2 separate regions of the Homo sapiens genome follow, and region 2 is linked to region 1. The links come from fine-mapping of genetic effects on gene expression. A gene starts in region 1. The other region holds a variant in brackets. All regions are shown on one strand. Distances are from middle to middle.

Region 1 (4,378 bases):
CTGAGAAAGGGTGGGAAGACCTCCTCCCAGGCAGAGCCTTACTGTTAGAGCTAACACCAGCTTTGCCAGTCACTTTCCTGGCCATCTTGAACGGGGGCTGTACAGGGACATTGGTCCCCCTATCTGTGTACAGAAGCCTTTTGTGAACTGACTACAGGTCCCAGGTATTCTCTGATTTCTCCCCCAAAGGATGGCGCTTATGCTCCCAGGTCCCCGGCAGCATGGTGCATGCGTGACAGCGGCTGGCGTTTTTGGGAGGTGCTCAATATTCCTGCTCTCTAGACCAAAGTAAGTTTCTCTTTGGGATAGCTCGACCCAGAAACTGATGCCACTGGTACCCACTTCCAATTTCCTCCAGCGGAAGGACAGAGAGCCAAGGGGGGTTGAAAGCAGGAATGGGGGGAGGGGGAAGCCTCTGCCCTCCCATCAGAATTCTTCCCTTCCATTTGACACAAAACTCCATTCAACAGACGGGGAGACTGAGGCCCAGAGAAGGCACCAGGTGGCATGTGGTTTATGCCCGGGCTCTCTTCCCTCAATTGCCGCAAAGTTCTCTTTAGAGTCTGTCCAAAAATAAATCCTTCCCTCTCTCCTATCTCCTCTCTCTCTCTGTTGTGTGTGTGTTTGATAGCTCCAGATTTTACTAAGCTATAGTTACGCAGGTTCTGGGCCAGCATGCCAGGCACACAGTACTGCTCTCCTCCTGCAGGGAGCCCCTTCCTATGCCAGTCTGGCCAAAGTCCTTCCCTCTCAAAGCTCCACCATTCCCAACCAGTAGCAGCTCAGTCTAGGGCAAATTCTTACCCCTAGACCCACCCCTAATTGCTGGGGAAGGGAGCCAGCAGAAGGCAATTCCAGAACCACGTGCGTCCCCCAAAGGCCCAATGATCAATCAACTCACAAACGGGCAAACAGACCTAAACACACGCTGAGACTGGCCCAAGGTCACACACCAAGCACATTAGGAGCAAAGCTGGGGCTAGAACCCAGTTGTTCTATCGATCCCAATCCCGTCCCCAAGGCTGATTCCCAGAGATGCTCCCTGAGGATGAGGCTCCACGTCTCTAGCTCCAGAGGCCTGCGCCCTACCCTACACCCCAAGCACCATAGAGCAGGGGGAGGCGTCTCCAGGCCTCTGTACAGGGCCAGCTGCAAACCGCAGCCTGGGTCCCCAGGCGCCGCGGACCCGCCCCGCCCCTCCCTCCGCTCCCCGCAGCCCGGAGCCTTTGTCAGCCACGCGCTCACACACAACCGCGCCGCCACGCGCACACACACCCGGTCTCCCTAGCGCACACCCGCAAGGGGCGCGCGCACTCGCCGCACGCACGCAGGGGGGTGGAGGCGGCGGAGAAAGGAAGGAACTGACGGGCCATGGACGGACAGACGACCTGGGCTGGGGGAAGGGAAGGGAAGGAGGCCCGGGAACCGGCAGCTGGGGTCGGAGGGGGCGCAGAGACAAGGAGACAGAGAGACGCAGAGGAGACTCTTGGAGAGGAGGACAACGGATGGGCCGTCAAGGGCTGGAGAGGACGCGCGGGCTGCTCCAGGGGTGGGGACTCCTCTATCCCTTGGCCCCGGGTGTGTATGAGCGGGGAGCTGGATTGTACCCGTGGTGCACGGAGGCATCCCTTGCCCAGTTGTGCCTGAGCAGAGGGTCCGTAGGGACCTCACGTAGGGCCTGGAGATAGCAGGCCTGAGACCAAAAGCTCTCTGGGGTACCTCCCTCGAGGCGGGTGGTGGGATGGGGTGGGGTCTTGGTCCTCGGGCTGGGTGGGGCACTCGCTCACCTGCCACGGTGTACCTGTCCAGGTAGTTGAGCACGTTGCCCAAGCTGAGGATGGCGGCGGCTGCCCCCCGCCCGCGGCCCAAGCTGGCCGGTTTGGGCTGCTGAGCGCCGGGGCCCTTTGCAGTAGCTGCGCAGCCGGGGGTGCCGGGGGTGCCGGGGGGTCCGGTCGGGGCCCGCCTTACGCTGCCCGACAGCGTCTGCACCTCATCGCCCGCGGCCGAGACTCCAGCGCCGCCCGCGCCCCGCGCCCCGCAGCAACCGCTACCGCCAGCCCCTCGCTGCGCCCCCCGGCGCCGGCGCCGCCGCTCCGCGTCCGCCTCCTCCTCCTCCGCGCCGCCCGCCGCCGCCGAGGCGCATTCCAGGCACATCATGCCGGCCCGGATCGGGGCGGCGGGGGGCGCGGGGGGCGCGGGGCCCAGGCTGGGCCCGCTCAGCGCGTGCGTGCGCCGCGGAGCCGCCACTGCACCATCCTGGTCGGGCCCCGTCGGCTCCTGCGCTCCGGCCCCGGCTGCGGCGCTGCCACCGCTCAGCTCGCTGCGCCTCGTTCGCCGCCGCGGCTCTGACAGCTGCGGCCCGGCCCCGCCCACCAGGCCCGCGCCCAATCAGCTCCGGGCTCGGGCCACAGCCCCGCCCCGCACGTGCTGCCCTGGGGGTGGGGGGCCCGGGGACTGGGGGCCCGGGCGGCAGAGCCCCTCCTGCCAATGGGGGCGCAGTCACGCCGGGGCCGACCGGCCGCGAACGCCCGCGGGGAGCGGGAGAGGGTTTGCTCTGGCTACGGAGCTGGGAGCAGGGTGCTGGTGACGGGGCTCCCAGCACCTACTCAGTACCCTTCACCCAACCCCTGCCTCGGGCGTGGACTCCCGGCGGAGGCTCTGGGAGCCGGGCTGAGGGCTTGAGCCTAGCGTATCTGGGAGAACTGGAGAGAGGAGTCTCAGATGGCTAAAGTCAGGGGCGCCAGTTGGAGAGCCGGTGGCTCCTCCGATACTCACACGCCCGGATTTAACCAGTTCAGGGAGGGCCCAGAACCTAGACCTCCACCAGTCATGGTGGGCTGTGTCTCCCACCTCCCCAGGGCAACCCAGATCCAGCCCCCAACCTACCCCGGGCCCATTCCTGTGTGGGCACCCGGACCCTACCCTTGCCCCACAGAGTGGCCCGCAGCCCCTGGCGGGGAGAGCAAGGGCTGTGATTGGGGCCCAACAGAAACAGGATATTCAGAAGGGGCTTTCCCTCCTGAGGGACCACATCTCCAAGCTTCAGACTTCCAGGTATGTGCTAGAGAGGGTACAAAGCCCCCAGTGGCAGACAGGAGGCTGGGTCCTAGCTCAGCTCTGCCCTGGTGTGTGGCATGATCCTGAACATGACACCCACTCTCTGGGCCTCCATTTCTGTATCTGGGGGCAGATGGCAGGATGGGATTCAGTCTGGAAATCCACGGGTGGTCACCTCCCCTTGGTGGGACGGGGCGGGGGTCTGCCTCCTATGGAGAGTGGTTGGGGTGCTTCTGTGTTCCTGACATCCCATCACGGTTTCACCCCTCCTTAGAGGTGCTGTGGCTCTGTGACGATCTCCCCCTTCCCTCCCCCATTCACCTGTTTGGGGAATTAAAATCGAAATTAAAATCCTGTATAAAGTGCAGAGGACAGAATGTTAGAACTGGACAAACCCTCGGAAACCAGTTAATCATTCCCTGTGTTTCACAGACAAGTCCCAGGGCACGGACGTGACCCATTACGAACAGGCAGTGAAGCTGTGGCAGGGCTGGAGCTGCCCCAGGCTCTGGCATCATCCCCGAGGGCTGGAGCTCACTCCCCGCTAGAGGCTTTTCCGGACCCCACGTCCACAGGCAGGTGCATCTGGTGAAGCTTTCGGCCACAGTGAGTCATGGCATAGCCAACGGGTGACACAGCACGAGGCACCCCCCCCGCCCCCCTCCACTGTCTCTTGTGAGCAGAGTTAATCCCCAAGCTGGTGTTTCTTGGCGCCTTCGAGGTGTATTTTAAATTCTGCAAAGTGACTAAAAATATGCTTCAGCGTGCTGGGTATGAATGACTGTGACGGGAGGGTTAGGAAAACAGATTTCATTCTCAAAGTTGCCTGCTGCCTCTTTCCAGCTCGCTGAGCTCAGGCCTGCAAAGGCGGATGGGGGGAGTTCCCCATGGTGGCCTGGCATGACGGGTGATTAACAAACAAGGACAGAGAGCTAGGAGCTCCGTGGGGCTAGAACCCGGCCCCAGCAATGATCTCGTAAGTGTGTGATGGTGCCAGCAGGTGGACAGAGTCCAGCTGTGGGAGGCTGCCCAGCTGTGGAACTGTGTCTAGTGGTGAAGGAGGCACAACCACAACTCTAGACCCAAGCCCAGGGTCCCCTTCCCGTGCCCCAAAACTCCTCATCCCTTTGGCCACAGTCCTGTCCAGGTGGACACTTTCGGCCTTGACAGAAAGGGGAGCATTCTCTTTCTGCTGCCTTCCCTTTTCACCACTGGGAAGGTCCCAGAGCAGGGGAAGAGGGTGGCATGAGCCTTTCAAACCTGGGGGACCTCTGAGCTGCCACCAAGCAAGCCAGCCCTTCCCACTGTGTTTCACTGGGGT
Region 2 (4,378 bases), 21 kb before region 1:
GGCACCGTCTCAGCTCACTGCAATCTCTGCCTCCCGGGTTCAAGCGATTCTCTTGCCTCGGCCTCCCAAGTAGCTGGGATTATAGGCATCTGCCACCACGCCCGGCTAATTTTTGAATGTTTAGTAGAGACAAGGTTTTGCCATGTTGGCCAGGCTGGTCTCAAACACCTGATCTCAGGTGATCCTCCTGCCTCGGCCTCCCAAAGTGCTGGGATTACAGGGGTGAGCCACCGTGCCCGGCCGTGTTTGCCCATTTCTGTGGTGTAAACACTCCGCCCTGGCTGAGTTCAAGCTACCCACGTCGTGTCACTGATGGGCGTTGGAAAGGGATGTGCGGGGACACGCCATTGTCCAGTGTTTCTACCACACAAATAGAACAGACGCCACTCACCATAGGACCACAGATAACGCTGAAACACAGCAAAATAATTAGGAAGTGAGGACTTTTGAGTAGTTATTACCTTGTTTCTAATTATTTAATTGTAAGCCGATATCATTTAGTTTTTAACAATGGTTGTATTTTACGACTAGCTCACACACCATTCCTGAAATGTTAACAATTGACTCTCATGAGCTGGCCTGAGCCAGCGCCAACATGCCAGCATCCTCATCTGTAAAATGAAGATAAAAATAGCAGCTCTCCAGGGTGGGTCTGGGTGCTGGATAGCACGTGCAAGGTGCTTAATGCCACACCCTGCCCAGAGCAGGCCGGCCTTGGTCAACACTGGGCCCTTGTTTAAATTAGTCAAGGCAGAAATTATTTCCTCACATTTAGAAAAAGAATTTTTCCTGCTGGGCCTGCCTCCAAGGACCTGCCTGAGATCAGATCAGAATGTGGCAGGAGGGAGATTTCCAGTTGCATCAGGACTGACACATGTTGGGGGAGGAGGAGGAATTGTTCTCCCTGTGCCTGTCTGTGCTAGGTGGCAAGTGGACAGAAGGAATCAGAAGAGAAGTTTCCCCCTGTCTGGCCAGGGGCAGATCTTGTTCATAGGTTGCTCTGTTTAAAGGACAACCTATGTTGGGGAACCACCAAGGAGCTCCAGATCCTGCCAGGATAATGAAGAGAGGCTTCCCGGAGGCGGTGGTGACAAAGCTGGGCACTGAAGCATGCATAGGAGTTTACCGCTAAGATAATACTTAACATCAAGAATATACGCTGAAATATAAACTTCAGATCAGCAATATTGTATAATGGTTCACGAGGCATGATGCTTAGTGTTCATGATAACTGCAGTTATTATTTATGGATATATAGGCAAGGCCCAGCATGCAGCCTTGACATATGCACAGATGATCTCTTTTGATTCTGTTCTCTTCATTTTACAGAGGAGACAATGGAGGCCAAAAGAAGTGATGTCACACAGCGAGTGTGCGGCTGAGCCAGAATTTAAATCCCAGTTTGGCAGACTCCAGAGTCCTTGCTCTAAATCACTCCCCAGACTGCCATGCTGGGAAGGGGGAAGGTCCCAGCTGATGTTCCCAAGGTCAGGGAAAGTTCAGGGCCTGCTGAGGACAGCAAGGAGACAGGTCAGGCCATGGCCTGAGGATGCTCAAGAGGAAGCAGCGAGAGATGAGGCTGTGGAGGGAGGACTGGGCTAAAGACCAGGACAGGGTTTGGTGTTTAGAAGGCGGCAGAGAACCACAGCGCGCTCTCTCCACCCCGCCCCCCAACACCATGGTAGGATCCTTGAAAAAGCCCCCTCCCGGGGGGGTGACGAGGGACTGGAGGGACGTGACCCAGACCTTCGCCAGACCCCGGCCATCATGCTCCATTCTCTCCTCTTGCCCACAGTGGAGCAGGAAGCACGGGCCCTTCTTAGCTCTTTCAACCCCTCCCTGGTTTCTGGCTCCTCACTTAGATGGGCAGAAGTCCCCAGGACTGCAGGTGGACTCCTGGCAGAAGCTGGCA[C/A]GCCCCGTCCCCACCCACCGGCCCCAGCCTGATGAACTTGCCCAAGCACCTACGTGCCCTTAGCTCACCTGATCCTCCCCACGTCCATCCCTATCTAACAGCTGAGGTCACTGAGGCCCCAAGAGGTGGAGGAAGTTGCCCGAGATGACAGACCAAATTAGGAAGGCACAGTCTGGACCAGCCTGCCCCTCAGTGTCTTCCCTTGGGACATGGCAGTCCAGGGTCAGGAGGGAGGTGGGATCCATCACTGCTGCCCTCTCTCTGCTCAGGACAGACAGGAGGGAGGACCCCGCCTGGCCCCCTGGAGGTCACAGGCCATGGAGGGGCCTGAACACAATCAGGGTAGGGACGGGGAGGGGGCTGAGAGAATGTTCCTGGCAGAAGGGACAGGATAGGCGAAGCCTTGCCCATGTGGACTGTGTCCGATGGGGACACAGAGGCCAGCAGGCAACTCTGCTGAGAATAAAGACCAGCCTGGGCTGGGCCTCCAAGCTAGAAGCTTCCCCTGCCCACCACCCCGCAATCCCGTGGTCTTTGTTTGTTTGAGGAGAGCTTTCTGGGCAGACTGGCAGCCCCACCCCTGGTTTTGGTAGGGGCGGCTTTCCCAGCAGTTCCCGCAGGGACATCCTGTGGAGGGTGTGCTGAGCCCACAGGTCTAGGACAATGGAGAGGCAGGGCAGGGAGCCAGGGCCGAGCGGGCAGGGCCGTGACAGCAGGGAGGGAGGGGTCAGACCAGCCCGCCTGCCTCGGGGTCTTGGGCCAGGGCCTCACTCCCTCCTCCTCGCCAGGCTGGCAGGAGGCCGTCAGAAAGCCAGTGCTGTCCACCTCTCACGGCAGCCCAGAGCTCAGAACCCCCACGGGCCCTCGGTGTCCTGGTGGGCAGCCCCAGGACCCCTGTCCATGGTGAGCGGAGCCATCCCCATGGCACACATGGCCTGTATGACCCCAGAAAGCAGTTTTGGAGCAGGAAAGGGCAAGTCTGAGCTTGAGGGAGCCCTGAGCCCCCGCCCTGTGGCCTTGGAGCCTGCATTCAGCCCTTGCTTCGGCCTGGGCTGAGCCACGGCTATTTTTACATGGCTGATCTGTTATTTGGAGAAGACCTACCATCCTCCACATCCTGTGGGCAGGGAGGGTGCTCAGGCAGGCATGGGTGGGGCGGGGGCCAGGCTCTGCCATCCAAGGGACGGCCTGGGCTGGCCAAGCTGACGGAGAATGCTCAGGACAGATGGCCCCATCAGCGCCTGAAAGCTCACCACGCTCAGACTTCCCGGTGGAAGGACGGGAACACCTGCTCTGTGATCCCCTACTCAGGATGTAAACCTTGTGTTGGGCTCTCAGGCCTCAGGGTGAATGAGGTTTTGGGGCCACTCCTTGAAAAGGAGGGCTTTGGGGAACAGCCGCAGGGGCTGCCCGGCTGTGCCTTCAGAACCCAAGTCTGCTGAAGCAGGAGTCGCTGGGCTGGCCAAAGACGGGAGGGGAGAACAGGCAGAAGGAGACTTACCCCCAAAACAGAGGCACTGTCTGGTTTCGGTTTGAGCTGGCTCTTCCTCTGTCCCCACTCTCCCTCCGTTCCCCCATCCCCATCCTGGCACTTCCTCGTGAGCCTACAAACCCCGGCCCTGAGTAGCCTTCAGCTTCCTCTGCTGCCCCTTCCCACACTTGGTCCCAGAATGAATATCCTGAGACACACATCTTTTTTGTTTGTTTGTTTTTGTTTTGTTTTTGAGACGGAGTCTCGCTCTGTCGCCCAGGCTGGAGTGCAGTGGCGCGATCTCGGCTCACTGCAAGCTCCGCCTCCTGGGTTCATGCCATTCCCCTGCCTCAGTCTCCCGAGTAGCGGGATTACAGGCACCCGCCACCACACCCGGCTAATTTTTTGTATTTTTAGCAGAGACGGGGTTTCACCATGTTAGCCAGGATGGTCTCGATCTCCTGACCTCGTGATCCACCCGCCTCAGCCTCCCAAAGTGCTGGGATTACAGGCGTGAGCCACCGCGCCCGGCCCGAGACACACATTTTACACGGACTGCCCTGTTCCAAAACCTTCTCTGGCTCCCTACTGCCCCAAGACAAAACCTACATGCCTTATCTTGGCCTTCAAGCCTTTCACACTCAGACCCTGCCCACTGTCCAGCCTCTTCTCCTTCTGTTCTCCCCATACGCCAACCCATGGCCAATGGGCCACAGGCCACTCGAGTCAGGCAGTGCCACAAACAGCCTTCGTTCTCCCTCACCCTTCCCTGTGTTGCATTGACGCTGATTTCCTCAGATCTAGCTTCTAATTCACTTTTCTTTTCAACTAGGTGTAGTCTACTCATTAACTCACCTAATTATTCCATTTTTTATTTTAATACATATTTTTCACTTCTGGTATTTTCGAATATTAGTCTTTTAAACATTTTCCGGTTCTCTTTTCATAATGTTCTGTTCTTGTCTTACAAGTCCTATCCTTTCCTTTAGAGCTTT

What was found. PIP is the estimated chance that this variant, and not a neighbour inherited with it, causes the effect.
Region 2: its variant is the best candidate, but not a certain one, in a credible set for the expression of SPNS2 in whole blood (INTERVAL, PIP 0.64).

What each region holds. Positions count from the first base shown.
Region 1 is chr17:4,496,827-4,501,204 of GRCh38, reverse strand. SPNS2 (SPNS lysolipid transporter 2, sphingosine-1-phosphate) reads right to left here and starts at 2,324. Exons shown (of 13, transcript NM_001124758.3): 1 at 1,788-2,324. The coding sequence starts at 2,157. SPNS2-AS1 (SPNS2 antisense RNA 1) reads left to right here and starts at 2,470. Exons shown (of 3, transcript XR_001752763.2): 1 at 2,470-3,054; 2 at 3,490-3,663. RefSeq lists enhancers at 890-1,524, 1,525-2,160 and silencers at 2,202-2,251, 2,312-2,461, 2,472-2,531.
Region 2 is chr17:4,517,781-4,522,158 of GRCh38, reverse strand. The region is part of intron 2 of SPNS2 (SPNS lysolipid transporter 2, sphingosine-1-phosphate); the gene reads right to left. Among named protein-coding and RNA genes, the nearest start is that of SPNS2, 21 kb to the right of the region's middle. The variant C/A (reference allele first, on the strand shown) is at 1,913.